Linked DNA regions of Homo sapiens. Each later gene encodes a partner of the first gene's protein in a complex. Each region holds a gene or a part of one and is shown on either strand. Other genes may lie near its edges. The genes, in order: LY96 and TLR4. A codon is read from its position in the direction of its gene.

What was found.
Region 2: the proteins of LY96 (region 1) and TLR4 are in contact, whole or in part, in a crystal structure (PDB 4G8A), measured with the Homo sapiens proteins. Residues at the interface, in NP_056179.4 of Homo sapiens: Met40, Tyr42, Ile66, Pro67, Arg68, Arg96, Ser98, Asp99, Asp100, Asp101, Tyr102, Ser103, Phe104, Arg106, Leu108, Lys109, Gly110, Glu111, Thr112 (codon at 8,122), Thr115 (codon at 8,113), Thr116 (codon at 8,110), Ile117 (codon at 8,107); in NP_612564.1 of Homo sapiens: Gln39 (codon at 10,293), Met41 (codon at 10,287), Glu42 (codon at 10,284), Asp60 (codon at 10,230), Ser62 (codon at 10,224), Phe63 (codon at 10,221), Asp84 (codon at 10,158), Ser86 (codon at 10,152), Arg87 (codon at 10,149), Thr110 (codon at 6,421), Gly111 (codon at 6,418), Val132 (codon at 6,355), Val134 (codon at 6,349), Glu135 (codon at 6,346), Asn156 (codon at 6,283), His159 (codon at 6,274), Ser183 (codon at 6,202), Ser184 (codon at 6,199), Asp209 (codon at 6,124), Leu212 (codon at 6,115), Arg234 (codon at 6,049), Val259 (codon at 5,974), Glu262 (codon at 5,965), Phe263 (codon at 5,962), Arg264 (codon at 5,959), Asn265 (codon at 5,956), Glu266 (codon at 5,953), Arg289 (codon at 5,884), Ala291 (codon at 5,878), Tyr292 (codon at 5,875).

The regions. Positions count from the first base shown.
Region 1 is NC_000008.11:74,019,051-74,034,912, reverse strand, and holds the end of LY96 (lymphocyte antigen 96 isoform 1 precursor), read right to left. Parts: intron 8,125-15,862; coding exon 8,072-8,124; intron 7,947-8,071; coding exon of another isoform or gene 7,752-7,946; exon of another isoform or gene 6,228-7,751; intron 5,958-6,227; coding exon 5,859-5,957; 3' UTR 5,834-5,858; downstream 1-5,833. UniProt on the Homo sapiens protein: Binds bacterial lipopolysaccharide (LPS). Cooperates with TLR4 in the innate immune response to bacterial lipopolysaccharide (LPS), and with TLR2 in the response to cell wall components from Gram-positive and Gram-negative bacteria.
Region 2 is NC_000009.12:117,703,015-117,718,876, reverse strand, and holds the start of TLR4 (toll-like receptor 4 isoform A precursor), read right to left. Parts: upstream 14,475-15,862; 5' UTR 14,405-14,474; coding exon 14,312-14,404; intron 10,679-14,311; exon of another isoform or gene 10,559-10,678; intron 10,315-10,558; coding exon 10,148-10,314; intron 6,489-10,147; coding exon 4,229-6,488; 3' UTR 1-4,228.

The DNA.
Region 1 (15,862 bases):
TTGTTTTACTGGCTGTTTAGGCATCTTTGTACCCATCCTTGATTTGGAGGATCTGACCTTGACTTAATTCTATCCCTCAAAACTGGCCCTTACAATCTCACATGCTCACCCCTTCTGTGACAGTCCCCGGGCCTAGAAGGAGGGTGTTTGTATAGTCTTAGCAGCGGGGCATTTTCAGTGAAAAACAAATTGGACCCAGTGTGATGCCAAATGAGGGAGATTCGCATCTCTACTCTTCAGAATACCATGATTCTGGTTTCCTTGGAGGTAAAACAAGGAAAAATAAATAACAATATTTTTGAAAATCAAAAGAGTATTTATGTGTCAGAACAGAAAAAGGAACCTATTCCATTAAGGCACCAACTAAAAATAAGAAGAAAAATGATAACCTGGCACTCTTTAGAGAATTATATAATTCATGATTCAATCTGCACTCAAAAACAAAAGTTGGGGCTGAAATCTAATAAAAAGTGTTACACTTCTTTGAAACAACCTCTTTCTCTGGTTCTCCTTTTCTATTAAAGAATTTTTTTTTTTTTAAGGCACAGAGTCTCGCTTTATTGCCCAGGCTGGAGTGCAGTGGCATGTTCTTGGCTCACTGCAACCTCCATCTCCCAGGCTCAAACAATTCTCATGCCTCAGCCTCCCGAGTAGCTGGGATTACAGGCATGCACCACCACACCTGGCTAATTTTTGTATTTTCTAGTAGAGATGAGGTTTCTCCATGTTGGCTAGGCTGATCAAACTTCTGGCCTCAAGTGATCCACCCACCTTGGCCTCCCAAAGTGCTGGGATTACAGGTGTGAGCCACTGCACCCAGCCTAAAGAGAAATTATAGTAAGACCAATGTATGTGCAAAATAAGTTTTAGGCTTACTATACTTGGCCTGATTATTCACATAAAGTGCAGCAAGAATTAATTGGCCACATAGGTTCCTTTTAAGTTGGCTTTGCTGGAAATTTGCCTAAAAATATGTTATTCTAGTCAAAGCCCTGGTTTAAAAAAAAAAAAAGTCTCCAATTGTCCTGTTTTGAAAGAAACGAATCTTACTACACTTATGCAAATAACTATATTGTCATAAAATCAGAATACCCATGAACAGTTTCTGAATTCTGGAGAGCTCAGAGAGAAAAGTAAACTTGCTCACAAAAACATTCTTCACTTAATTGCTCTAAACAATAAATAATTCAAAAGAAAAAGATTTGCTTGACTCCTCTTTAACCACAGCAGCAGCCTTCCAAACAAGATGTCCTTTGTTCACCTTCGAACTTCACAAGTGAAACAGCTCTGGTTAGATGGGAGCTGTCTATCAGGCACTGCAGAATCTAGCAGCTTCTATAAAGTTAGAATCAGTCCTAGGGGAAAAAGAGGCCCCCTGCTCATAAGTATTCTCCTCCTTGCATTCGTCAGGGAGCAAGACCCTATATCAAAAGGATATGGGCCCCCAGCAGGGGGTTGGGCCAAAGGACTCAGTCCCTTTTGTCAATCTTTATCTTAATTTGCCTCAGTATTGCCCCAGGCAACGTAGCATTCTCATTATAACCATTGTCTTTGGATTTTTCTTATATTTTCCAATCTAGGGGCAAATAGTGTTTTAAAGGCCTTTGTTTTAACTCCCTCAATTTTCATTTTATTTCTTTCTTTTCTTAATAACCATCCAAAAAATTATATCACTGTTCTGGGGTGAGCTCTTTTAATCCCTTTCTCCTTACCCATCTTTTTTTTTGTTAATTATGCCTGATATTTTATTAAGCATCTGTAAAACCCACAAGAGACAGCAAACTTGATAAGGCTGCTCAAATAGTCGTATGATTCTGCCGGAGTAATGTCACCCAGGGTGCCCATGTAAAAAGGGCCCCCTAAACCCCAAAATTTACCATGATGTGGGCAATAGAAATTTTTGTTGGAGAATATTTGGGTCATCATAAAGCCAGTCCCACATGGCTTGCATATGAAGCATATCAACTGCTTCATCTGGGGTGTTCCACTTGGCATTTTATAGGGAGAGTTGGGCAATCTCCTTCTCAGGATAAACACTAGGCTGGTTGTTCCCTCAGGAATCACCTCCTGTGTATTTGGATCACACACATTCACCAGCAATTGTTTAATAGTGAGCTGTGGGTCCTGCATCAACCCAATCAAGCTCTTTCATTCTGTAGCATTTAAAATTAAGGATTCTATCCTTAAAGTAGTTATTTTTACAATTTATTGTGTAGCAGAATGAGCTGCAGACAACAACCCCTCAGACACCAAGTTGTGGAAGGAAAGGGCTTTATTCAGCTGGAAGCACCGGGCAGACTCACGTCTCCAAAAACCGAGCTCTCCGACTGAGCAATTCCTGTCCCTTTTAAGGGCTTACAACTCTAAGGGGGTCCGCGTAAGAGGGTCGTGATCGATTGAGCAAGCAGGGGGTACGTAACAGGGGGCTGCAAGCACAGGTAATCAGAACAGAACAGGACAGGGATTTTCACAATGCTTTTCCATACAATGTCTGGAATCGGTCAGGGGTTGATCTTTACCAGGCCCAGGGCGCAGCACGCCGGGCTGTCTGCCTGTGGATTTCATTTCTGCCTTTTAGTTTTTACTTCTTCTTCCTTTGGAGGCAGAAATTGGGCATAAGACAATATGAGGGGTGGTCTCCTCCCTTAATTGTAGTAAAGGTTTCTCAGGGAGATGATGATACCAATCTACAAAATGGAACAATTCATTTACACAATCCCCTGTGGCTTTTCGGGTTTTATGTTTGGTTGGTTGGTTGTTTTTTTGTTTTGTTTTGTTTTTGTTTTTTGAGACAGGATCTTGCTCTGCCACCCACACTGGAGTGCAGTGGCACAATTTCGGCTCACTGCAACCTCTGCCTCCTGGGTGCAAGAGATTCTCACTCCTCAGCATCCAAAGTAGCTGGGATTACAGGTGTGCGCCACCACTACCAGATAATTTTTGTATTTTTAGTAGAGATGAGGGTTTCACCGTCTTGGCCAGGCTAGTCTGGAACTCCTGACCTCAGGTGACCCACCCACCTCGGCCTCCCAAAGTGGTGCGATTACAGGCAGAAGCCACCATGCCTGGCTACCCTCTGGTTTTAATGGTTGCTTCATTTTGCCCTTCCTCCACATTGACTGTCTTCTTGGTAACCACAGGTCTCAGAGGTAACTTTGTTGCCTGGGCTTAGTTTTTCTCTTTATCCATTTAGTTTTATCTGTATAATTTTTCCTTTACTCTAAAGCAACTCTTAAATAGTCACTTAACTAAAAAAAAATTACTTTTTTTTTTTTTTTGAGACAGAGTCTCACTCTGTCGCCCAGGCTGGAGTGCAGTAGTGGCACGATCTCGGCTCACCGCAACCTCCGCCTCCTGGGTTCAAGCAATTCTCTTGCCTCAGCCTCAGCCTCCTGAGTAGCTGGGACTACAGGTGCCCGCCACCACACCCGGCTAATTTTTGTATTTTCAGTAGAGACAGGGTTTCACCATACTGGCCAGGCTGGTCTCGAACTCCTAACCTTGTGATGCGCCCGCTTTGGATTCCCAAAGTGCTGGGATTACAGGCGTGAGCCACCACACCCAGCAAAATTACATTTTCTTTAGCAAAAAACACATCCTTGTGTCTTTTTGTTTTTTGTTATTTTGGAGCAGAGTTTTAATAGGCAGAAGAGAAAAGAAAGAGAAATAGTCTCCAAGTGGAAAAGACCAGCAGGCGGCATATACTCCGGATTTCATACAGAGAGGATGAGAGATATGGTGGTCATGGACAGGAAAGGAGGAAATTACAATAGGAAAGGTGGCAATCCTATTACTGACACCCTATCAGGTGGTCGGAAGCTGGGGTCAGTCCAGAAGCCTTTGGATAACACGGGGGTAGCCCCAGCCAGAAATCCTCAGTTGCTCCAAAACCTCTTCCAGCCCCATGCAACAGCTAAGTCCTCTCTGAAAGTAAGCTGGTTCAAACAGGGCCAATATGCCCAACAACCCATGGGTACTCGGGGATTCTCCATGTTCTCTCCAGAAAGCCTGTCCTCCAAGTCTTATAAGGCTGGCAGCCATGCTAATCATTTTTAAATGGCTGAAGGTGGCCCAGTAGTTGGTTTGATTTGGTTCTTAAATGGAGGCTGACAGCCTTGAAATGTAAGGACAGAGTTGGAGTCTGCTCCTCTGCTCACCGTTTCAATGAATGTTGTACTTTGGTATCCCAGATGAACCTCCAATATGAAGCTGCTACGTTGTCTGGAGTATAAACCCAGGGTTTGTCATCTTTCACCAGGAAAACTTAGGACACAAACACACACGAGGAGTTTAGGAGTGGAGGTTTAATAGGCAGAAGAGAAGAGAAAGAGAAACAGCTTTCTCTATATAGAGAGAGGGGTCTCCAAGCAGAAAAGACCCCATCCTTTTGTTTCTATAAACTTCACCAAAAACACTTCTGTCGCCAGGCTGGAGTGCAGTGGCACAATCTTGGCTCACTACAACCTTCACCTCCCGGGTTCAAGCGATTCTCCTGCCTCAGCCTTCCAAGTAGCTGGGATTACAGGCGCATGCCACCAGGCCCAGCTAATTTCTGTATTTTTAGAAGAGACAGGATTTCACCATGTTGGCCAGGCTGGTCTCAAACTCCTGACCTCAGGTGATCTGCCCGCCTCAGCCTCCCAAATTGATGGGATTACAGGTGTGAGCCACTGCACCCAGCCTTTTTAATGTAAATTCTTGGTAAACAACTCAGAAACTCCCTCTTCTTTCCCTTTAAAAACCCTCTTGTAACTGCTGCTAATTTATGGAGTATATATTCAGGGCAACTCAAGTTGCCATGCTCCCAGGATGCAGTCCTCAAGCTTGGCCCAAATAAACTCTCTACTTACACTAATTCTGTCTCAGCTTCTTCCTTTTAGGTCAACACTGCTGTATTAGTCCATTCTCACGCTACTATGAAGAAATACCCAAGACTGGGTAATTTCTAAAGGAAAGAGGTTTAGGTTGGGCGCAGTGGCTCATGCCTGTAATCCCAGCACTTTGGGAGTCCGATCACCTGAGGTCAGGAGTTCAAGACCAGCCTGACCAATATGGTGAAACCCCATCTCCACTAAAAATACAAAAATTAGCCAGGTGTGATGGCAGGTGCCTGTAATCCCAGCTACTTGGGAGGCTGACGCAGGAGAATCACTTGAACCTGGAAGGCAGAGGTTGCAGTGAGCCGAGATGGTGCCACTGCACTCCAGCCTGGGTGACAGAGTGAGACTCCATCTCAAAACAATAAATAAAATAAAGGAAAGAGGTTTAACTGACTCACGGCTCTGCAGGGCTGGGGAGGCCTCAGGAAACAATCATGGCAGAAGGGGAAGCAAACGCGTCCTTCTTCGTATGGTGGCAGGAAGGTGAAGTGCAGAGCAAAAGGGGTGGGTGGGGAAAGCTCCTTATAAAACCATCAGATCTCATGAGAACTCATTCACTATCATGAGAACAGCATGGAGGTAACCATCCCCATGATTCAATTACCTCCCACTGGGTCCCCCATGACATGTGGGGATTATGGGAACTACAATTCAAGATGAGATTTGAATGGGGACACAGCCAAACCATATCAATTACTTACCCTACCTTGCCCATTGCTTCCTGTGGAAAACATAACAAACACTCTTGCCCACATTCTTCCCCTCCCTCCACATTCTCACAGACACTGGTGCTTCCCCAGGTGGCTCTGCATGATGCACCATGCCTCCGTTTCCTAGAGATCTGTGAGGATAAGCTTCTTTCTTCATGACAGTCATTTCTGTGTCTTCCTATCCTACCATATCTGATTAAAACAAATCCTGGGTACCCTTAAAACAGGAACAATACCTTTAAATTTTTTTTTAAATACTCAATTTATTCTAATTTGAATTAGGTTGGTGTAGGATGACAAACTCCAAGCAAAAGAGCATTTCTTCTGGGCTCCCAGAAATAGCTTCAACAACACATTTGTATTTTCCCTAAAATGAAGTATAAGAAATACAAGTAATACAAAATGTTAGATGCTACTATTTCAGAGGCTTTGTAAGAACTTTCTCTTACTAGCAGAAAGCCATTTAAATTGGATTGATTTTATAGTTTTCCAATGAGACGAAATTTTCCATGTCTTTGAATTAAATGAGCATAAAGCCCATTTATTTCCCAATTATAAGATTATGTTATTTTTAAAAACTAACCTAAGAGGTTTTGAAATATTAGATATTAGTTTATAACAAAATAATGAAAGAATATGCATTATTAAATTTTATTTTAAAATGGTCACCATAAGTAAAATGCATAAAATCTCATTACTAGATATGTCACGCAAATATCTAGAATCACAATGGTATTATTCATTGAGGCAGCAATTATTTTTACAAAGGCATGGATGACCAGACTAAGTTCCCAAAAAAATCTTGAACAAAAAAAGTCTGTAATTTATGTGATTTTTATTCTCCTAAACAATGTTCACATTATATTTACATGAATAGTTATAGAGATTTACTGGCTTATACACAATGGTCATCCAGTGCTTTCATCTGAAGACTGTTCAACAGATTAGTAATGAGCACTTGCATTCAAATTACTTTTGCCCATGTATGTTAGAGGGAAAAAAAAATGAAGCGGAAAAAAATGCTATGTTTTGTGCAATTTTTCCATAGTCTACAGAAAGAAAAAATACCAAAAGACCTAATACTAAGGCTGGGTGTGGTGGCTCACACCTATAATCCCAGCAGTTTGGGAGGCCAAGGCCAGGTCTCACTAACAACTGTTTCAGTACTGAGTGGTTAAGTTAAATATTTAAAGCCAGCGCCCTTATGCAAAGGATGGGATGTAACAAAAGCCCATCAGGAGTTTTGCCCAGGCCCTTCCTTTAAGGCTTTCTTAAACCATAACAAAATAACTAAGAAATTCTTAATAGGACCCATTTAGGATCAATCGAGTTTTATTGTGGGTCCGAAGAAACTCCCCAGGCTTCCACAACCAAGTTTACTGGGGGTCTGAAGGAACTCCTCAAACCTCCATGATTTAGCAGGAGACAAGATAAAGGTAATCACCCCAGCACCCAGACCCATTTAGATTAAGTAAAGTTCCTGAGGCTCCAGATGAAGGTCTTCAGGACTCAGACCTTAATTATAGATTAAAAGAAGTTAATCACTTGTGTCTTCAGATGAATGCACACTTACACATAGACATATACCTTAGAATGTATATAAGCTCTGAAAACTTTGTAATTTTGAGTTGGTCTGGCGATAATTTCCAGACCTTCTCCCTGTAACCAGTTACAGAAATAAAAGCTCTCTTCCTCCCCAGTTCATCTGCATCTTGCTATTGGGCTGCGAGAAATGGCAGCCCGACCCTCAGTTTGGTCCAGGAACAAAGGTGGGTGGATCACATGAGGCCAGGAGTTTGAGACCAGCCTGGGCAACATGGTGAAACCCCATCTCTACTAAAAATAAAAAAATTAGCTGGGCATAGTGGCATGTGCCTGTAATCCCAGCTACTCGGGTGGTTGAGGCACAGAATCACCTGAACCTGGGAGGCGGAAGTTGCAGTGAGTCCAGAACACACTTCACTCCAGCCTGGGCAACAGAGCAAGACTCAGTTAAAAAAAAAAAAAAAAAGCTAATTCTAAATAAAAGTGAAAGAAAAAACCCTGAACATCTTAATCTCGAACTGCTATTCATGAAATTGTCAGCTGGGCACAACTGCCCATACTTGTAATCCCAGCACTTTGGGAGGCTAAGCGGAGTGGATCGCTTGAGCTCAGGAATTCAAGACCAACCTGGGCAACATGGTGAAACCGCGTCTCTTCCAAAAGTACAAAACATTAGCTGGCATTGTGGCATGGACATGTAGTCCCAGCTAGTCAGGAGGCTAAGGCAGGAGGATTGCTTGGGGTGGGGGTTGGCGGGTGGAGGTTGCAGTGAGCAGAGATCGTGCCACTGCACTCCAGCCTGGGTAACAGACTGAGATCCCATTTAAAAAAAAAAAAGAAAGAAAAAGGAAGAAGTTGTGAATTGCTTGTTTCAAATGCTTAACATGTCTATTACTGCTAAAGGTTAGACAGTACAAAATAAATCTTGAACAATACCTTAGAAAATTTTATTCCCTTGAAGGAGAATGATATTGTTGTATTCACAGTCTCTGCAAACAAAATATAAAATACAAAACGTTATTGGTCACGGTTAGGTGATATTTTTTTCTTGGTAGCATGGAGTATACCTTAACTACTGACAGACGCAGTCCCAAGCAAAACTGTAGAAAAATAATGAATCTTTTATACCCTGGCTGCTATTCTCCTGTGGCTTCCTTTCTCCGCCCCTAGAGCCTCTCTGTACACCTGCCCCTACCTTATCCCTTAGGGGACACAAACTATTAAGACCTGCTGGTCTCAATAATGAATAAACGATGAACAAGCTAGTGCTAATATGCTTCAGAACAAGTTACATATGTGCATTGCAAACTAGTTTTCAGAGATATTGATGCACATTAAGCTGGGTATAATAGAGAACAATCTTGCAAAGACAGATGAGATATTTTGGAGGCAGCCAGAATACTGAAGCTCCTCCCAATTACACCACTGAGAAGCTCAAGTTAGCTTCTGTTTAAGTGCATAGCCACGGGCCTGGCCCCACACAAGCTGTGGAGCACAGAGTCAAAAGTGCAGAAAAATGCACATCCTACTGTTCCAGTCAGAACAAAGTAGTGAATGTGGTGGGGTAAAGATAGAAATGTATGTTTTGAATCTCAAACAAAAGAAACAGTGGCCAAAAATATTTTTAATATAGTTAAATCAAAAACTATAATATTGTTCTCAGAAGTAAATAATTAATGTCTGCATGTATACTTCTAGTCTCACAAGTAAGCATTTATTTATTTACTTCTGGATGTATCCTCTTTCTGTTTTTGTTTGTTTCTTTGTTTTGAGATGGAGTCTCACTCTGTTGCCCAGGCCGGAGTACAATGGCGTGATCTCAGCTCACTGCAACCTCTGCCTCACGGGTTCAAGAGATTCTCCTGCCTCGGCTTCCTGAGTAGCTGAGATTACAGGCGCCTGCCACCACACCCGATTAATTTTTGTATTTTTAGTAAAGACAGGGTTTCATCATGCTGACCAGGCTGGTCTCGAACTCCCAACTTCAGGCGATCTGCCCGCCTTGGCCTTCCAAAGTGCTGGGATTACAGGCATGAGCCACTGCGCCCAGCTGTCTTTTCTTTTCTTTTTGCTCTTTCTTTAAAGCAGATAAAGGGTGTATCTTTTTTTTTTTTTTTTTTTTTGAGACGGAGTTTCGCTCTGTCGCCCAGGCTGGAGTGCAGTGGCACAATCTTGGCTCACTGCAAGCTCCGCCTCCTGGGTTCACGCCATTCTCCTGCCTCAGCCTCCCCAGTAGCTGGGATTACAGACACCCACCACTACGCCTGGCGAATTTTTGTATTTTTAGTAGAGACAGAGTTTCTCTATGTTGGCCAGGCTGGTATTGAACTCCTAACCTCAGGTGATCTGCCTGCCTCGGCCTTCCAAAGTGCTGGGATTACAGACATAAACCACCACACCTAGCCGGGTGTATCCTTACTAAAGGAGTTGATACCTGAGGTGTTTCTTGAGCTCAGTAAAGTGATCATGTCTTCATAATCTTATGATCTTTCATTCAAGGCCAATCCAATTCAAAATTTAACAGTTCAACAACTCACTTATTGAAAGCCTACTACCCACCAGGGCCTGGGAAGACAATGGTAGTACAACTCTGTCCCTTCTCTCAAAGAGCTAAAGTCTATTGGAGATATAGATATTTAAGAAACCATTCCAGCTGTGAGCGGTGGCTCATGCCTGTAATCACAACACTTTGGGAGGCCAAAGAGGGTAGATCCCTTGAGCCCAGAAGTTCAAGACCAGCCTGGGCAACATGGTGAAGCCTTATCTGTACAAAATATATAAAAGAAAGATGGGTGTGGTGCATGTGCCTATAATCCCAGTTACTCGAGAGGCTAGGGTGGGAGGATCACTTGATCCCAGTAGGTAGAGGCTACAGTGAGCTGTGTTCGTGCCACTTCACTCCAGCCTGGGTGACAGGGAGACCTTGTCTCAAAATAAATACATTAAATTAAAATAAAATTAAAATTTTTAAAAACCAAAAAAAGACCCCTAAAATGATAAGAAGAAACCATTCCAAATACAATATGCAATGAGAAAGATGCAGTAAGGATAAAGATAACATCTTTGTAAGAGTGATGGCTCTGGGGCCAGAACGGCTTGGGTTTGAATCCCAGCTCCTCTACTTGGTGTGTAACTTTAGGCCAGTCACTTAATTTTTCTATGCCTCAGTAAAATGCTGATGGGCGATAACACGTATCTCATAGGATTATTACAAGGGCTATACCAGTTAATACATGTTAAGTGCTAAGAACAATGCCTAGGACATAGCACTTATTAAATATTATTACCATTAAATGTTACTTATAACATTTAATATTATTCCTTCTCCCTTCTAGACCCTCCTTCCAATGGCATCTTGTGAATAATAACATATTCATACCTTGTGAATATTAATGCATTAATATATTAGTCATATATGTATATATTATATAATAATATAATAATAATAGGCTCTATCTCATTAACTTGCTTGTTTCTTTGAGAGTATTTATCACAAATTGAATCATATTTCATTTTTCTGCTTTTCTTTATTTTATTACTTCATTAGGATCTTGTTTTCTCCACTAGTCTATAATCTCCATGAGGACCGGGGTTTTGCTTTGGATATTTGGATATCTGGCACCTAGCACCTAATTCTCAGTACCCAGCTTCAGGATCAACTATTAGGTTGGTGTAAAAGTAATTGCAGTTTTTGCCATGAAAAGTAATGCAATACATCATTACATAATTAAATACATAATTTTCAAGGCCCAGCACAAAATGACAATATGAGGCTGCTTATTCAAAAGATGGGGGAAACCTGTTAAAGTTACTAGAACATAAAACTTTTTCCTTTCTTCTGTGTGTTTCTCTCTCTAGACTTGCCATAATGTTTTTATTGCAATTTAATATCATTTGTAATAAAGAGAACATTTTAAACTGTTAGTATGAATTTCACTATTCATCTTTTTATAATACAATGCCAGTTTTAAATGCAAATATTAAAGCATTTAACTTCAAGGTAGAATCACGGAGATTACATAATTTGTCTTTCCCTGCTCAACCCCAGAGGGTGCCTCGAGCTGGCCAGAGGAAACTAACACAAGCCAGAGGCAGGAAATTTGAACGGAGAAAGAGAAGGTCCCCAAGACATGGAACAGCCTGAGGGAATGACCCCTCAGCAAGCAGCATAGGTGAGTGCAGAAACACCCAGGGGCTCCTCCACGACTGGGGGCTCCTGTGCAAGCTTGGGCCTGAGAGTTGCCTGTCAGCGTCCTCCTTCCACAAACTGCCAGATGCCCCATGCTCCTGTGAGAGGCAGGAAGTCCAAGCAAGTACCTTTCTTTCCCACAGGCCTGCTATTCAACAGTGACTCTCAACGCACTGCAACCTCCATGCAATACCTCCACACACTACCTGTTTCGGGGTGGGGCAGGGGATGGTGTGCCCAACTAGTCAGCTGCTGAACAGGGCTGTGGTGCTGCCAGCCCAGGTAGGGCAGCCACTGTCATGCCCACCCAAGATACTGCAGGGCACCCACACCGGATCCTGACCCTCCCTGTAGCCAGGATTTCACCAGGAGCAGAGGGTAGCAGGTTGCACTGGACAGAAGAGGGGAGGGGATCCCATGGTGCCAGCAGGGAAGTGGGCAGCGGGAACCAAGAACCGGTCCAGGGAAGGTGGGTTCATACCTCATCATCTCATTAGATTTCACTTACACAAAACACACACTCAAAGATAAAATTATTAAGAATTTCAAGACTATGATCACAGGGCATTAAACCCCAAGCATGGGGCCCTTCCGTATATGGGGCCCTGGACTCTGGTCATAAAGCCAACTCTGTAAACTTTGTGTAAGGGGCAGGGGAGGAAGATGGATGAGACTTGAGGATATGAGAAAGAAATTAAGAACAACCACTAGACCAGGAACAGTGGCTCACGCCTGTAATCCCAGCACTTTGGGAGGCCGAGGTGGGCTGATCACGAGGTGAGGAGTTTGAGACCAGCCTGGCCAACATGGTGAAACTCCATCTCTATTAAACATACAAAAAAAGTTGTTGGGCGTGGTGGCATGCACCTATAATCCCAGCTACTGGGGAGGCTGGGGCAGGAGAATCTTTTGAACCTGGGAGGCAGAGGTTGCAGTGAGCTGAGACTGCGCCATTGCACTCCAGCCTGGGCGACAGGGCGAGACCCTGTCACAAAAAAAAAAAAAAAGAAAAAAAGAAAAAACCCTAGATTTCTATTAAGGGAGACTGTCCTAACACTTAGCAGTTCAGGTAGGTGGAAGGAGTTCTAACCTCTTCTGTTGGATAGAACCCTTTTTTTTTTGTTTTTCAATTGTTTTGTCTGTCTTAGAAAGCTATCTTTTTTTTTGGTTTTTCTTTTTTTGAGACTGGAGTCTCACTGTGTAGCCCAGGCTGGAGTGCAGTGGTGGGATCTTGGCTCACCGCAACCTCTGCCTTCATTCAAGTGATTCTCCTGCCTCAGGCTCCCGGGTGGTAGCGGGGATTACAAACATGTGCTACCACACCCATCTACTTTTGTATTTTTAGTACAGACTGGGTTTCACCATGTAGGCCAGGCTGGTCTGGAACTCCTAACCTCAAGTGATCTGCCCGCCTCGGCCTCCCAAAGTGCTGGGATTACAGGCTTGAGCCACTGTGCCTGCCAAGAAAGCTCATATCTTGCTCATACCTTCCATTCTTTTCTTTTCTTTTTTTTTTAAATTATACTTTAAGTTCTAGGGTACATGTGCACAATGTGCAGATTTCTTACATATGTATACATGTGCCATGTTGGTTTGCTGCACCAATTAATTAGTCATTTACATTAGGTATTTCTCCTAATGCTATCCCTCCCCCAGCCCCCCACCCCATGACAGGCCCTGGTGTGTGATGTTCCCTGCCCTGTGTCCAAGTGTTCTCATTGTTCAATTCCCACCTATGAGTGAGAATATGCAGTGTTTGGTTTTCTGTCCTTACAATAGTTTGCTCAGAATGATGGTTTCCAGCTTCATCCATGTCCCTACAAAGGACATGAACTCATCGTTTTTTATGGCTGCATAGTATTCCATGGTGTATATGTGCCACATTTTCTTAATCCCGTCTATCATTGATGGACATTTGGGTTGGTTCCAAGTCTTTGCTGTTGTGAATAGTGCTGCAATAAACATACGTGTGCATGTGTCTTCATAGTAGCATGATTTATAACCCTTTGGGTATATACCCAGTAGTGGGATGGCTGGGTCAAATGGTATTTCTAGTTCTAGATCCTTGAGGAATTGCCACACTGTCTTCCACAATGGTTGAACTAGTTTACACTCCCACCAACAGTGTAAAAGCATTCCTATTTCTCCACATCCTCTGCAGCACCTATTGTTTCTTGACTTTTTAACAATCGCCTTTCTAACCAGTGTGAGATGGTATCTCATTGTGGTTTTGATTTGCATTTCTCTGATGACCAGTGATGATGAGCATTTTTTCATGTGTCTCTTGGCTGCATAAATGTCTTCTTTTGAAAAGTGTCTGTTCATATCCTTTGCCCACTTTTTGATGGGGTTGTTTGATTTTTTCTTGTAAATTTGTTTAAGTTCTTTGTAGATTCTGGATATCAGCCCTTTGTCAGACGGGTAGATTGTAAAAATTTTCTCCCATTCTGTAGGTCGCCTGTTCAATCTGATGACAGTTTCTTTTGTTGTGCAGAAGCTCTTTAGTTTAATTAGATCCCATTTGTCTATCTTGGCTTTTGTTGCCATTGCTTTTGGTGTTTTAGTCATAAAGTCCTTGCCCATGCCTATGTCCTGAATCATATTGCCTAGGTTTTCTTATAGGGCTTTTATGGTTTTAGGTCTAACATTTAAGTCTTTAATCCATCTTGAATTAATTTTTGTATAAGATTTAAGGAAAGGATCCAGTTTCAGCTTTCTACATATGGCTAGCCAGTTTTCCCAGCACCATTTATTAAATAGGGAATCCTTTCCCCATTGCTTGTTTTTGTCAGGTTTGTCAAAGATCAAATGATTGTAGATGTGTGGTGTTATTTCTGAGGCCTCTGTTCTATTCCATTGGTCTATATCTCTGTTTTGGTACCAGTACCATGCTGTTTTGGTTACTGTAGCCTTGTAGTATAGTTTGAAGTCAGGTAGCATGATGCCTCCAGCTTTGCTCTTTTTGCTTAGGATTGTCTTGGCAATGCAGGCTCTTTTTTGGTTCCAGATGAACTTTAAAGTAGTTTTCTCCAATTCTGTGAAGAAAGTCATTGGTAGCTTGATGGGGATGGCATTGAATCTATAAATTACCTTGGGCAGTATGGCCATTTTCACAATATTGATTCCTCCCATCCATGAGCATGGAATGTTCTTCCATTTGTTTGTGTCCTCTTTTATTTCGTTGGGCAGTGGTTTGTAATTCTCCTTGAAGAGGTCCTTTACAACCCTTGTAAGTTGGATTCCTAGATATTTTATTCTCTTTGTAGCAATTGTGAATGGGAGTTCACTCATGATTTGGCTCTCTGTTTGTCTGTTATTGGTGTATAGGAATGCTTGTGATTTTTGCACATTATTTTATATCCTGAGACTTTGCTGAAGCTGCTTATCAGCTTAAGGAGATTTGGGGCTGAGATGATGGGGTTTTCCAAATATACAATCATGTCATCTGAAAACAGGGACAATTTGACATCCTCTTTTCCTAATTGAATACCCTTTATTTCTTTCCCTTGCCTTATTGTCCTGGCCAGAACTTCCAACACTATGTTGAGTAGGAGTGGTGAGAGAGGCATCCCTGTCTTGTGCCAGTTTTCAAAGGGAATGCTTTCAGTTTTTGCCCATTCAGTATGATATTGGCTGTGGGTTTGTCATAAATAGCTCTTATTATTTTGAGATACGTTCCATCAATAGCTAGTTTATTGAGAGTTTTTAGCATGAAAGGCTGTTGAATTTTGTCGAAGGCCTTTTCTGCATCTAGTGACATAATCGTGTGATTTTTGTCTTTGGTTTTGTTTATGTGATGAATTACGTATATTGATTTGTGTATGCTGAACCAGCCTTGCATCCCAAGGATGAAGCCAACTTGATCTTGGCGCATAAGCTTTTTGATGTGTTGCTGGATTTGGTTTGCCAGTATTTTATTGAGGATTTTCTCATCGATGTTCATTAGGAATATTGGTCTAAAATTCTCTTTTTTTGTTGTGTCTCTGCCAGGCTTTGGTATCAGGATGATGCTGGCCTCATAAAATGAGTTAGGGAGGATTCCCTCCTTTTCTATTGATTGGAATAGTTTCAGAAGAAATGGTACCATCTCCTTTTTGTACCTCTGGTAGAATTTGGCTGTGAATCTGTCTGGTCCTGGACTTTTTTTGGTTGGTAGGCTATTAATTATTGCCTCAATTTCAGAACTTGTTATTGATCTATTCAGGGATTCGACTTCTTCCTGGTTTAGTCTTGGGAGGGTGTATGTGTCCAGGAATTTATCCATTTCTTCTAAATTTTCTAGTTTATTTGCATAGAGGTGTTTATAGTATTCTCTGATAGTAGTTTGTATTTCTGTGGGAACGGTGGTGATATCCCCTTTATCATTTTTTATTGCGTCTATTTGATTCTTCTCTCTTTTCTTCATTAGTCTTGCTAGCAATCTATCTATTTTGTTGATCTTTTCAAAAAATCAGCTCCTGGATTCATTGATTTTTTGAAGGGTTTTTTTGTCTCTATCTCGTTCAGTTCTGCTCTGATCTTAGTTATTTCTTTCCTTC
Region 2 (15,862 bases), on another chromosome or scaffold:
TAGTTACAGTCACTTCTGTGGTTCCACAGGCTGGAAAAATAGCAATTACTTTAGTGTTGTTACTGAGAAGACCTCCCAGTGCTTCTCCTAGTGCCCTCTTAATAAAGTCTTAGGGGAGTACTCACCCATAAGGACAGTGTCCCCGTATTGAACATAATACATGATTTTCAATCCTTAGAGCAACCTTACAAAGTCATAGTTCTATTCTTATTTTACATTGGAGCTAAGTAGACTCTCAGAGAAATGGAGCCCAAGGCACACAGTTGATAAGGAGTGAATTTGAGTTTTGGCTTTCTCCAAAAGCCACGCTACTCAAAACACCAGAAAAATGGAAAGCACTGTATTAACGCTCATTCTCGGTGTCTTTCTCTCCTCTTTTTATTCTATGTCCAGATTTTCTACTTATTATTGATTAACCCTATTGTTCACATATCCTTTGTTTGAAGCTCCTTCAAGTCCTTTATGGAAAGATAGGGTTATAAATAAATCATTTGGTATGTATAACATATATGCATATGTATTGGCTTAATGATTCATGGCTTCAACTGAGAAACCCTTGCTAGTGTCAACCACACAGAAAACTGCAGGAGTTTCACTTCCTGTTTTGCCAACTTTAAGCATGAAGCAATTGGGTGTGGAAGAAAGAAAGTGTCCTTGAGTGACCTGGAGGCCCAGGCTCAGGTTTTGTCACTTTCCTACTCTGTGGGCTATTGAAAAATTTACTTCATTGAACTTCAGCTTTCCCATCAATAAAATGGAAAAAGTTAATTATGATTTGCTACCTTACTCAGCTAATGAGATATTCAAATATATAGTTTTGTGAATATGTTTCAAGTTGTAAGGTATCACACAAATTTAAGGCATTACAATTGGCATTAATTTATCCTTATTCCACCCTTTATCCCTCTTAAATCCAGAGGATTTAAAGAGCTAAAAAGAGGCTGGCTGAGGCCTGACTTTACTCTTTCTTCTCCTTCTGTTCTATGCATATAATTTCTTTCCCTGCTTGTCCACCTCACCTGCCATTTCTAGAATTTCCATCTGGGAGAGGGAACTGATAGGAAGGAGGCCAATGTCAGCCTTGAATATTTCGGCCTTGAAATATTCCAAGTTGTATGTTGATCTTCCTTCTCAGAGCCTTGTACATTTGCTTGAATAAACACACTTATGCAGAATTCATATTCAAATATGAATAGAACCACACTTACATGTAGCACGGATATACACAAAATCATACATTTTCAAGCATACTAAGAAACTGAGGCATACATCTGTAGATAAACAATCATGTATGTATGTTAGTTCCTCACTTATCCACAGTTTCACTTTCCCAGGTTTCATGGTCAGTTATGGTCTGAAAATAGGTGAGTACAGTACAGTAAGATATTTTGAGAGAGAGAAAGAAAGAGATCACATTCACATAACTTTTATTACAATATATTATTATAACTATTCAATTTTATTGTTAGTTATTGTTAATCTCTTACTGTGCCTAATTCAGAAGATGAACTTTATCTTAGGTATTTATGTATAGGAAAAAATATTGCATATATGAGGTTTGGTACCATCTGCGGTCTCAGAGATCCACTTGGGGTCTAAGAACGTATCCACCAAGCATAAGGGATAAGGGGAGACTACTGTACAAGCACAAGAGTAGAGAACTCATCTCAAACAGCCATAGACATCCATTTCAAATGGATGTATTCTTCAAGAAATATAATCACACTCTCTTCTATACAGATATGATCATGCGGACACACACACTTTCAAATACACACAGCCCTGATAGGGATACATAGGGATATGTGCACAAATGCACACATCTACTTTCACTAGTACATGAGACATGGAAACACACCCAGGGATGTTCAATCACCCTAGACCTGCTCAAACCAAACACACTCTGAAACACTCAGTAACAAACACTTCTGACTGTGGTCATATTTCCAGTTTTGACAACTGAATTTTGTTGTCTTTTCTTTTTTATAGCTTCATTCAGACATAATTGATATTATAAAACTGCATATATTTAATGTATACAATTTGATGAGTTTAGACATAGTCACATACCTGTCAAACCATCACCACAATCAAGGTAATAAATATATCCATCACCTCCAAAAGCTTCCTTGTGTATATGTATATGGTAAGAACACTTAACATGAGAGGTACCCTCTTAACAAAATGTTAAGTGCATAATACAGTATTGTTCATTATACGAACTCTGCTATACAGCTGATCTTTAGAGCTAATTCATCTTGCATACTATAATTTTATACCAATTAGACAACTCCCTATTTCCTCATTTCTCCCTTCCTCCTTTTCCCTAGGAACCACTGTTCTATTCTCTGCTTCTATGAGTTTGACTATTTTAGAACCTCATATAAATGAAATCAGGCAGTATTTGTCTTTCTGTTACTTGCTCATTTTACATAGCATAATGGCCTCCGGGTTTATTCATGTTGTCATAAATAACAGGATTCCCCCTTTTTTTAGGCTGAATAATATCCCATTGTACGTATATGCACATTTTCTTTGTCCATTTATTTTTCAATGGAAATTTGGGTTGTTTCCATAACTTTGGAAACAGTGATTGTGAAGAGTGCCACAATGAACATGGGAGTGTAAATATTTTCTTGAAATTCTGATTTCAATTATTTTGGGTATATATACAGAAGTGAGATTGCTGGATCATATAGCAGTTCTATTTTTAATTTTTGAGAAACCTCCGTACTGTTTTTCATAACGGCTACACCATTTTCCATTCCCTCCAGCAGTGAAGAAGGGTTCCAATTTCTCTATATCCTTGATGACACTTCATTTTTTTATAGTAGCCATTCTACCTGGTATAAGGTGATATCTCATTGTGGTTTTTATTTTCATTTCCCTGATGACATCCTGATTGTCCTTTTCTTGAATGTTCTGTTTCTGAGGAGGCTGGATGAACATTCTTTTCTGGGAACCTTCTTTATAAGAACCCCATTAATTCCAGACACATTGTTTTCTCAATGATAACATCCACTCTTCCCAAAATGTGGTCAAGGAGCATTGCCCAACAGGAAACAGCAATGTATACTCCCTGCCTTGAATACCTTCACACGTAGTTCTCCTGGCAGTGAGAAGGGTACAGGGGAGGGATCCCAGCCATCTGTGTCTCCCTAAAGAGATTCAGAGGTCCATCAAACATCACTTGTTCTGAAAAAAATAAACTTCTGCTGCAACTCATTTCATGAGGTCACCCCGGGTTTATCAGCCCATATGTTTCTGGAATCAAGAAAAGGTGACCTCCTGAGGTCATCCCACTTCCTTCCTGCCTCTAGCCCAAATTGTCCATGATAAGACCAGGAAGCGGAAATTTTCTTCCCGTTTAAAAGAGTGCCCCCTTTAAACAAATTATTTCAATGCTGCTTTCATGACAGTCATTACTTAGTAGGCAATAACTTTGGAATGACATCGAGTGACAAAGTGACAGAGTGTACTTTTCCATACTTCCTTGAAAAATAGTGGTTAATATGGATATTTGAAGCACGTCTTAAACAACCTTATTTATGATATTAGCTTATAGGCAAGACGTAAAAAAATGAAAACTGGATATATAAAAATAAAAATATATCAGGGGTGATTAGTTAAAAAATAGAACATGCTCGAGAATGACCAGGATGGTTGTGAGCATGTGTTAATCAGGTTTCCTTAGGAATTAGCCACTAGACTTTAACCTCTGTAAGGAGACAGACTTAAAATGGAAGGGGCATCTTGCATCAGGAGCCCCTTGACGACTGCAGTCATCAAGTAGAATTTAAATTGTATTCAATCAAAAAGGAAAAAGTGAACACCCAGTTCAGTCAAAACTACCAAAATGGTTTTATGATGGCTATAACATAATACAATTTCCATTCAAAAGACTCAGGAAAAGAACAATGTCTCTTTCTGTTTTCTCTGTCTTTATTCAACTTGATGAGGTAAGAGTTGAAATGACTTTCTTTGTCATGGGTTCCTTGACTGAGTTGGTTGAAATGCCCACCTGGAAGACTCTGTATTTTAGTCTAGCATTTATTCCCTCTGCACTGGAAGCTCCTTGAGATTAGCAGCCCTGCATATCTAGTGCACCATGGAATTACTCACCCTTAGCATAAGGCCTGACATGTGGCAGCATTTAATACTTATTAACTGAACAAGTGTTGGACCCAGCTGGGCAAGAAATGCCTCAGGAGGTTTTTATTTTTCCTCTTCAGATAGATGTTGCTTCCTGCCAATTGCATCCTGTACCCACTGTTCCTTCTGGATTCCATGATTTACCATCCAGCAGGGCTTTTCTGAGTCGTCTCCAGAAGATGTGCCGCCCCAGGACACTGTCCTCCCACTCCAGGTAAGTGTTCCTGCTGAGAAGGCGGTACAGCTCCACCTGCTGCCTGAGCAGGGTCTTCTCCACCTTCTGCAGGACAATGAAGATGATACCAGCACGACTGCTCAGAAACTGCCAGGTCTGAGCAATCTCATATTCAAAGATACACCAGCGGCTCTGGATGAAGTGCTGGGACACCACAACAATCACCTTTCGGCTTTTATGGAAACCTTCATGGATGATGTTGGCAGCAATGGCCACACCGGGAATAAAGTCTCTGTAGTGAAGGCAGAGCTGAAATGGAGGCACCCCTTCTTCTAAATTCTTTACTAGCTCATTCCTTACCCAGTCCTCATCCTGGCTTGAGTAGATAACAAAGGCATCATAGATGTTTTCACCTCTACCATACTTTATGCAGCCAGCAAGAAGCATCAGGTGAAAATAGAACTTATAGACCAGAACTGCTACAACAGATACTACAAGCACACTGAGGACCGACACACCAATGATGGTCTTATTCATCTGACAGGTGATATTCAAACTCAGCACAGGCATGCCCTGCTTATCTGAAGGTGTTGCACATTCCATTCGTTCAACTTCCACCAAGAGCTGCCTCTGGTCCTTGATCCATTGCAGGAAACTCTGGTGTTCACAAGTACAAGCAAAGTCATTCTGAGTAAGATTTAAGAAAGCTAGACTACTTGGAAAATGCTGTAGTTCCTGTTTTTTGGAAGTCATTATGTGATTGAGACTGTAATCAAGAACCTGGAGGGAGTTCAGACACTTATAAGGAAACGTATCCAATGAAAAGAAGTTGTTGTGGCTCATATTTAGTACCTGAAGACTGGAGAGTGAGTTAAATGCTGTTGGAGACAACTGCTCCAGTTGACACTGAGAGAGGTCCAGGAAGGTCAAGTTTCTCAGCTCTGTGAAGATATCTGGAAGGAAGTTTTCCTGGAAAGAATTGCCAGCCATTTTCAAGACTTCGAGACTGGACAAGCCATTGAAGATGCCATTGAAAGCAACTCTGGTGTGAGTATGAGAAATGTCAAGGTAAATGAGGTTTCTGAGTGATAGGAATACTGAAAACTCACTCATTTGTTTCAAATTGGAATGCTGGAAATCCAGATGTTCTAGTTGTTCTAAGCCCAAGAAGTTTGAACTCATGGTAATAACACCATTGAAGCTCAGATCTAAATACTTTAGGCTGGTTGTCCCAAAATCACTTTGAGAACAGCAACCTTTGAAACTCAAGCCATTTCTACTGAGATCTAGAAACTCAAGGCTTGGTAGATCAACTTCTGAAAAAGCATTCCCACCTTTGTTGGAAGTGAAAGTAAGCCTTTTGAGAGATTTGAGTTTCAATGTGGGAAACTGTCCAAATTTACAGTTAACTAATTCTAAATGTTGCCATCCGAAATTATAAGAAAAGTCTTTTACCCTTTCAATAGTCACACTCACCAGGGAAAATGAAGAAACATTTGTCAAACAATTAAATAAGTCAATAATATCATCGAGGTAGTAGTCTAAGTATGCTAATCGGAATTCTTCAATGGTCAAATTGCACAGGCCCTCTAGAGCAGATTTGTCAAACTTTTCCAAGTTTCCTTCATTTCTAAATTCTCCCAGAACCAAACGATGGACTTCTAAACCAGCCAGACCTTGAATACAAGTTTTCATTACATTTAAACTATCAAAATTATTTCTTAAAGTCAGCTTATGAAGCCTAATTTCTTTAAATGCACCTGGTTGGATAAAGTTCATAGGGTTCAGGGACAGGTCTAAAGAGAGATTGAGTAGGGGCATTTGATGTAGAACCCGCAAGTCTGTGCAATAAATACTTTGAATCTTGTTGCTGGAAAGGTCCAAGTGCTCTAGATTGGTCAGATTAGAAAAATACTCAGGTAATTTGAAAGATTGGATAAGATTGTGAGCCACATTAAGTTCTTTCAAAGTTTTGAGATGTCCAATGGGGAAGTTCTCTAGAGATGCTAGATTTGTCTCCACAGCCACCAGCTTCTGTAAACTTGATAGTCCAGAAAAGGCTCCCAGGGCTAAACTCTGGATGGGGTTTCCTGTCAATATTAAGGTAGAGAGGTGGCTTAGGCTCTGATATGCCCCATCTTCAATTGTCTGGATTTCACACCTACAGGAATAAAAAGACATTGATTATCTAATATTTCTGCTGAATAAGAACCTAAAATAGAATATTAATCCTAGTCATCCAGCTCTTCATACAGATGTGATGGGTCATATGATTGTGCATAGGCAAAGACATCAAGCAGGACAGATGATGATGGAATAAGCAAATAAGAAGCCCCACAGACTGAGTATTATCATACTGGCTGCAATGATAGGCTCTTTTTTGTCATGTTAGGCATACATGATAAGCAGAGGAGAAAATCCATAAGAAGGAAATCAGTTAAAGATCAATAATTGACATATATAAAGATTGTGCAGTTGATAAAGCATGTAATAGCCTTGGATCAAGTTTAGCCATTTTCTGTCACACAAAATTGTGATTATACATCTGATTGGTACAGATAATATGGATAGTTGTTAGTTGGTAGCCAAGATAAATGACTGGTAAATATCAATTTCAGAGATACGAAAAATTACACATAAGTGTCACAGATACTCTTAATGTTTATGAAAAGTGCTTACATGACAGCTAGATATTTGAAAGTTCTTGTTATCAGAGGTAAATGCTTGTAACAGGTGATAGGAGCGAGTTTTGTGGAAAAAAGTGAAAATTATGTGCTATAAGAGTTCACATCCAGAGAACCGTTGTGGACCAAGAAAATCAAAGTAGGTTTCTCTGAGAACACTTAAGTTGAAAATTGAAAGATGAGTAGAAGTTAACAATAAAAGGAGGTGAAGTGAACAGCAAACACAAAAGCCCCAAGGTTGACAGAAAAAAAATGACACAAGGAGGAATCATGACAAATAGCTTCCATGGTTGGAGAACAGAGATGAAATTGGAGTGTACAATATGGAGTTGTGGAGAAAGAAGGTTCCCAATTAGGCAGAGGTTTACCAACCAGATAAAGGGTTTTGAATTTTATCCTAAAAGAAATGAAAGCCATGCTACACACAATGTTCAGAGACATGTCCTAGAGACAGGGCTTTGATGCAGCCAGCAAACAGCAAGCCAATGAAAAATTCCTTTCAGCATTGCAGGTGCTTGTCAGTTACAATGTACAAATAAGTTCTTTCTTAATCCAGCCTGAATTACATTTACAATATTCCCCACCCATTTTATTTAGCTTCTTCAGGAGTTTCCTAGACAATAAAAGCATTGTGGTCCAAGCTTTTGTTATTTATTGGTAACTAGATAAAGGATAGGCAGTATAGTAGAAAGAACGCTGGAAGAGTGGACAAAAGAGCTTGGGTTTGGTGTTTCTGCAGTCCTCTCCTACTGTGTGATCTTGAGTACCTCTTTTCCTCTCTAGGTTTTAGTTATCACATTTATAAATCAAACAGCTGAACTTGATTATTTTTGAAGTTCTTTCTTTCAATTATATGATTGTTATAGCCCATCATTCTATCTCTGCATTGCTCTATACATTAGGTGAGAAGGAAAGGGTCTTGCTGTGTCTCTATATCATTACATTGGTGATAATCACTTTAGAGAAGTAGAGTATTAAGACAAAGAAAACATTTAAGTTGGATTCTGGAGATGTGAACTTAAATCTCTGGTCTGTGGCTAACAAGCAATGATAATGTATATAAGTCATTTAAATTATTCAAGCTTCAGTTTCCTCACCTATAAAAAGAAATATATATATATTTCTATAGGGGAAAGAAGGCTGCCTGGTCTATCACAAAGCATTCTTACAAGACTAGTTGAGTTACTGTATGTGAACACTGTACGAAAAGGCAAAGGATGTCTATTGTGCTATCTTTTGTGCTTGCCCTAATTCAGAATCTCCTATGGGTTAACAAGAAGGGAAGCTGGCCTCTCTGTAAGCACAGATTTAAGGTTTCTGGGGCAAGTTTATTGGGTATCCAGTGGATTGAAGATGAATTACATAAGAGACATTGTTTGGTGAAAAACTACTTCTTGTTTGAAAAAAAAAAAAAGGGAGAGGTGGTCTACCTTAATAGAGTACTTGACAAAATTTTCATGCAGGAAACTGAAATTTAGAACATAATGGCATAGATGCAGCTAGTAGCCATTATCCTAAGCAAATTAACAAAGGAACAGAAAGCCAAATACCATGAGTTCTCACTTTATAAGTAGGATCCAAACATGGAGTACACATGGACATAAAGATGACAAAAATAGACCCTGGGGATTACTAGAGAGGGGATAGAGAGAAAGCAGCAAGGGTTGAAAAACTAACTATTGGGTACTATGCTCACTACCTGAGTGATGGTATCGATTGTACCCTACACCTCAGCATTACGCAATATAACCATGTAAATCCCTGAATCAAAAATAAAAGTTGAAATTATTTTAAAAACCTAATGAAATTCTGTAAGAATACTTTATGCTTATAAAATATATTTTATAAAAATTTAAATATATACAGCATATTAATATTTATTATCACATTTAATCCAGCAGAATAAGTTTCATCATTTCCATTGATCAGATATGAAAACTAAGATTAAGGGAGATGAAGTAATATGCCTAAGGTTACATGGTTATAAAGGTTGGGGGTAAACTTGGCTCAGGTCTTCTGACCCCAACAGGACTCTATGCACTATACCACTGCCTTTGAATTGTTCCATTACTCCTTTGTTACATCCTATCTATATCCAAATTAGAGTATAATAGGTCGTATGCTCACTCTTCTACAGAAATGTCTGCTCTAAAAAGGATTTTTATACTGTGACCTTAGTCTTTATCAATAATTTCTATAATAAAAAATATGTAAAATGTTTTGAAATGTTTTACAAACCATTGCAGAGAACATGATCCATTATCTAGTTCGATTTGCAAATAAGGCCCCGATGATGAAAACCCTTTTAGAATTTGGTTCCCCTAAAATATCAAGATGACATTTCACCTGCCACAACAAACGATATACTTCCCTGCATCAGAAAAGAAAATCTTAGCCATTATTCCCTGCCCACAGCAGATGTTTTCCTTTAATCTTGACATCTTTCTCCTTGGGTTACTTGTCTTTTCCTAATTCCCTATCCTGTACACTAGTTTTAATATTCTAGACATTGTTTGAATCTTATGCAGTTCATGAAATCTTTCTTGACTACCCACCACAGAGAAGGCCCCTCTTCTGAAAAATACAATTAGTTACCTTTAGTTTAAACATAATTTATCACCTACTGTTATATGTCGCTATCTTTATATCAGTTTCCAGATCCAAAAAATCATAATTAAAATGTGTTGACTATATACTATGTACCCAGGACCATACCCAGGACTTTAAGGTATTAACTCTTTCAAGAAGATATGCCTCCTTAACAACAGGGGCTGTGTGTTATATATCAATATATGCCTGTCTTCTTGCAGAGTGTACAACATATAGCAAGTAGTCAATAAATAGCTGCTTATGAAAGAATTTAAGCTAATTTTCTCTCCTGTCTTAAAAGAAAACCTAAAATTAGAATTGCCCTTAGAAGCTGTCTCAGCCAACTGCCTACTTCACAGATTAGAAAACTGAGACCTGGAGAATAGAGGTAGCTTGCTCAAGGTTATATAGTTAATAAGACATCTGTTGTATGAATGAATAAGTGAATGAAGATGAGACTCCACAAACCAAGCTTTCCAGTCCAATAATGAAATGACAGGACAATGAACACCTCACCTTGTGCAGTATGTAAAAGTGGATTCATTACCTGGATAAATCCAGCACCTGCAGTTCTGGGAAACTGAAGAAGCTATAGCTGCCTAAATGCCTCAGGGGATTAAAGCTCAGGTCCAGGTTCTTGGTTGAGAAGGGGAGGTTGTCGGGGATTTTGTAGAAATTCAGCTCCATGCATTGATAAGTAATATTAGGAACCACCTGCAATGATTACACATGACATGAAGTATCTTTACTGCATGGTCTCCCAACTCCCCTCTCCTAGACCAGAGATGGTGGAGAGGGGCCTCTTTTTGTGCAAGCACAAAATTCAGTCAACCTTTCATCCATCTGTCCATCCTTCCATCCATATATCCATCCATCCATTCACTCAATTCATGCTTATAAATTGTCTTACTCTAGATTAGAAAGTAAAGAGCACCTACTACGTGCTCAGCATTCTAACCTCCGTGATAAAACGGCAGCATTTAGCAAGAAGCAATGGAATCGGGGTGAAGGGCTGAGGCTCCGGAGTCTGAAAGCTCTGGGTTTCATGCCAGCTCTTCTGTGTGGTTTAGGGCCAAGTCTTTAAAAACAAAACAAAATAAAACGAACAAAAGAAAAACCTCAGTGAGCCTCATTTTATCATATGTAAAATGTAGGTAATAAAATATCCAATATCGTGCTTGCTGCAGTAGCACATACACTAAAATTGGAAGGATACAGAGAAGATGAGCATGGCCCCTGCACAAGGATGACACACAAATCCATGATGCGTTCCATATTTTCATGATCTATGCAGCAAATCACCATGGCACACATTTACTTATGTAATAAACCTGCATGCTCTGCACATGTGCCTCTGAACTTAAAAGTTGAAAATACAAAAAATAAATAAAATATCCAGTATCATTTTAAATACTCCATATCATTGGGGAGACTGTCTGGCAGTCAAGATGTCCAGACCTTCCTTAGTCATGGCCCAGATTTTGACAACTGCATTCTTTTTCTTGGCTCATTGACCCTTGAGCAAAGTGATGTAGAAATAGGGGGAAATCTTTAGAGTGCATGGATTCCCATGGTGGAACCTAGTAAATAAGGTCAAGTGCTTTATGCTGTCTTTGTTTTTACACTGCTTTCTAGCCTACTTTCCCACATTCTTTGTAAGCCTAATTCTCTAACGCTCCCATCTAATTTCTGAATGCTCTCATTTCCTCCAACAAAATTCCTTGCAGAAGCCAGCTAATTGTAGTTTTCTGTTGTTTGAAACCAATAGAATGTTTGAAGGATTAAATGAGATAAGGTGTTTAAAGAGTTTATTTAAAAGCCCGCTACAGTATAAGTGATCAATAGATGTCAACATTAATTATTATCATCTATCATTAATCCCTTACCATATGCCTGCATAGTTCTTGTTTGTTATATACTTTCACTTAATCTTCAAATAAGCATTTAAAGATGAGGAAAATGGAAATTCAAAGAAATGAAGTAATATGCGCAAAGTCAGAGTTCAAACATGCAGATCTTCATTCGTATGTCTGCTTAAATGTTGCAAGCCATGGAGCCTCAAAGACAATATTGTCTAATAGAAACAGTGCCAGGCACTCTTTCTTTGCCCTCTTTTATTCCCTTTCACGGGAAGCACAACCATCTAACATTATGTTGTCTATCTGATTGTTCTCATCGTATTGTTCATCTCCTGTATTCCATTGCAAGTTTGATGGGTTTGCCCACTGCTTTGTCTCCAGCACTCAGAATGGTGTCTGGCAAATGGTTGGTGCTCAATAAATATTTGCTGAATCACTAACTGATTGAATAACTGATTAAATGAAGGTTTACTTAAGTCCAAATTGTAGGCATTTCCTGCCAAGTGCTGTGGGCATTACAAAGAAAAATATGATGCAGCTCCAGACTTCAATGGACTCACAGTCTAGAGTAAGAGTTTAGATAGGAGCAAAGCTAACACTATCTCAAGGGGCCATAAAATAGGCTTAGAAAATATGCCCTGTGGTTCAGAGAAAGCAGAGATCAAGTCTGGATTCAGGAAAGGCTTCCCAGAAAAGGAAGATTTTAAAGTGGGTCTTGGAAGATGAGTAAGGTTTAGATATGTGGAAAGGGGAAGAAAAACATGTCCTAAGGAGAGGACAACGTGAGCACGTAAAGAGTGGAAAACAAACTCAGATTAGCTGGTGAGTGGTGGGAGTGGTGAAATCTAAGTAAGAGGGCAAGCCAGATCAGGAGGGCCTCAGACTTTGTCCTGCAGCAATTATTTCAATCATTTATCACTTACACATCTAGCGGCTACTGTGTGCTGGCCACTGGAAATATAGTGGTAAATAAAACCAGCAATGATCCTGCCTCCTTACCGATTCCATTACAAAGGGAGAGAGAGAAAATAAACAAACAAAAATATAAAATGTTGTGCTCTAGAAAAAAAAATATTAAGCAGTATAAGGGGATTTGAGGCAAATAAGTGAGGCTGGAGAGCTCTACATGGGGCAATCAAGGAAGACTGCCCTGAGGAGGGGACATTTAATCAGAGATCTGAATGGAGTGATTAAAGCATGAAAAGGACTTGGGCTGCACTGACCAATACGGTAGTCACTAGCCATACACAGTTATCAAACACAAGAAATGTGAATAGTGTAAATTGAGAAGTGTGGTAAATGTAAAACATATACTAAATTCCAGACTTAGTACCAAACAAGGAATGTAAAAATATCAATAATAGGTAAATATATATTAAAATTTTAAACATTATTTTAAATACGCTAAGTTAAATAAAACTATTATCGAAATTAAATTCACTTGTTTCTTTTTTTAATGAGGCTACTAAAAACTTTAAAAGTACATATGTGGCTCACATAATATTGCCAATGGATAGCACTGATCTAGCATTCTAGGTAGAAGAAATAGCCAGTGCAAAGGCCCTGTGGTAGAAAGCTGTTCTAATGGCAATGGAGAGTTATTAAAAGTTTTTAAGGAGAGTAATTTGTTAGATTGAAGCCTAAGGAAAAATAATAACAACAAATGCAAGTACATAACAAACAAGAACGTGCAGAATGAATTAAAGGAAGAAGACTGGAATCAGGAAAGCAGTTAGTGTGTAAGAGTCAATGCCAGGGGAAATGAGGGCCTGCCTTACAGTGGAACTAAGGGGATGGGCAGGGATGGACAGGCTTCAGGGACTGACAGGAAAAGGTACATGGGGAAAAGAAGTCAAGTTTGGCTGTGGTTTTATCTCGCAGTGAGCCTAATTAGAAAATCTATCTCCATTAACCTAACAGCAGAGGGATACAGAGAAGAGGACAAGGAGGAGGACTATGGGCAGGGAATTGAGGGAAGGGATGGCTTCAAGATAATGAATTAGTCTTTGCTAAATATTACTTGATTTTCTCCTATATCCTCAACTTCAGGACTGCAGCTGGCTTTTTCTCTCTTGAGTTTCTGACCCTGCCTCACTGTAAATCATTTTCTTAGCTGTTCGGCTCTACTATGGGTTTCTAAAGCAACTGTGAAGTCTGCGCAGGGGAAAAACAAAAGAGATCCATCATGAATAAGATTACCAACCAGCTGATTGGTATTTCACTAAGAAAGAAACTGTTGCATTAGCTGACATTATACATATTTCCCTCTTGCTTTTTTCTTCTCTCTCTCTCTCTTTTCCTTTTTCATTCTCTTATTTTTTTCATCCTCTGGACTAAACTATATTACTGCATACAGAAGTCTGACACCCACTTAGAAAGTTCTTTCTCTAGAGACACACACACAAAAGCCATCTTTTTCCTGAGATTGAAAGGAGCAGGGTGACTGCTTGAAGCTGAGTGTAAAGACCACCAGTGGGAAGAAATGACACTGAAGCAGTCTGCTTACTCTCTAGTGAAGAAGGTATTATAATTCTCTTACAGATGCGAAAACTAGTCTCAGACAGGTTTGATAATTTCTTCACAGAGCCACAAGGTAGCAGAGCAGGGACCTTAAGCAGATCTATGTTATCTCATGCCCCTGTTAGCACTCAAAATTTCCAAATGGAACAAACCCCCAATGGCTGCCTCTAGTGCCCTGTAACAATGAATTATTTGATCTCTGTGGCTTCTTGAGTCTTTAAGGTAATTTAACTCTTTTTTTTTTTTGCAAAAATAAACAAACCAGGGCACACAGTGAGAAGTTCTGGGCAGAAGTGAGGGAAAGTTCAGAGGAGCTGACTCCAGCCACATACCTCCACGCAGGGCTCCCAGCTTTCTGGTCTCACGCAGGAGAGGAAGGCCATGGCTGGGATCAGAGTCCCAGCCAGGCGCGAGGCAGACATCATCCTGGCATCATCCTCACTGCTTCTGTGAGCAGCAGTGGCCCTGTGAATGCGTGGCTCGCTATCACCGTCTGACCGAGCAGTTTCTGAGGCACTGGTGTCTTCTCTTCCTCGAGCCGCCCCACAGCAATTGGTGTATTCAAAGCAGTTCTGGGCTAAAGGGTGAGAGGAAGTGAAAGCGGCAACCTTAGCATTCTGGACTTTTGTTTCTCTAATAGTTATCTCTTTTGTCACAGGAGAGGAAGTTAGAAGAAGAAAACGCCTGCAGACCAGTGGCTAAAGAAACAGCAAGAGGAAGCTAGTTGGCTTTTATCCCAATTAGTCATCTGACCTCTGCCTGGGCTTGGTGAATTTAGGAAAACAATCAGGTTCTATTAAAATAGCCCTTGTAACTCTCTAGGATGACGGTGATTTTCCAATTTTGTTTCAGCTGTGGAAACACTATTTGTATTAGTTTGCTGGGGCTGCCATAAGGAAATACCACAGACTGGGTGGCTTAAACAACAGACATTCATTTTCTCACAATTCTAGAGGCTTCCAGTCTGAACTCAAGGTGTCAGCAAGTGTGTCTGAATTCTAATCTCCCCTTCTTATAAGGACACCAGTTATGTTGGATTAGGGCCCACCATAATGACCTCATTCTACCTTACATACCTCTTTCAAGGCTCTCTCTCCATATACAGTCATAGTCTGAGGTAGAGGGGTTAGGACTTCGATATGTAGGTTTTTGCAGGACACAATTTGGCCCGCCCCTTCTTGTGAAGAAACTCACATACAAAACTGAAAATAAACCTCAACTGAAACACAGTTTGAAAAGTACAAGAAGATTGGGAAAAGTCTGGGATTTCAGAATGGAATATACTGAAGTTCAGATCTCAGCTGGGTGACTCATGGCTTTGAGGCATTGGTCAAGTCATGTAAACCGCTAAGCTTTACTTTCTTTCTTTTCTTTTTTCATTTTCTGTATTATGGTAAAATCACATAACATAACATGACATAACATAAAATTTATTATCTTGACCATTTGTATGTGTACAATTTAGTGGCATTAATTATGTTCATATTTTTGTACAATCATCACCACTATTCATTAATAAATAACTCCCCATTTCCCCTTTCCCTAGGCCCTTGAATCTATGCACTACTTTTGTCTCTATAATCTTGACTACTCTAGGCAGCTCTTAGAAGTGGAATCATACAGTATGTATCTTTTTGTCACTGGCTTATTTCACTTTGCATAATGTCCTCAAGGTTCTTTTCTGTGTAGTATAGATCAAAGCCTCCTTCCTTTTTAAAGCTGAACAATATTCCATTGTATGTATAGACCACATTTTGCTTATCCATTTGTCTGTTCATGGACACTTGCATTGTTGCCACACGTTAGCTATTGTGAATAATGCTGCCATAAACATGGTTGTACAAATATCTCTTAAAGTCTCTGTTTTCAATTCTTTTGGATAC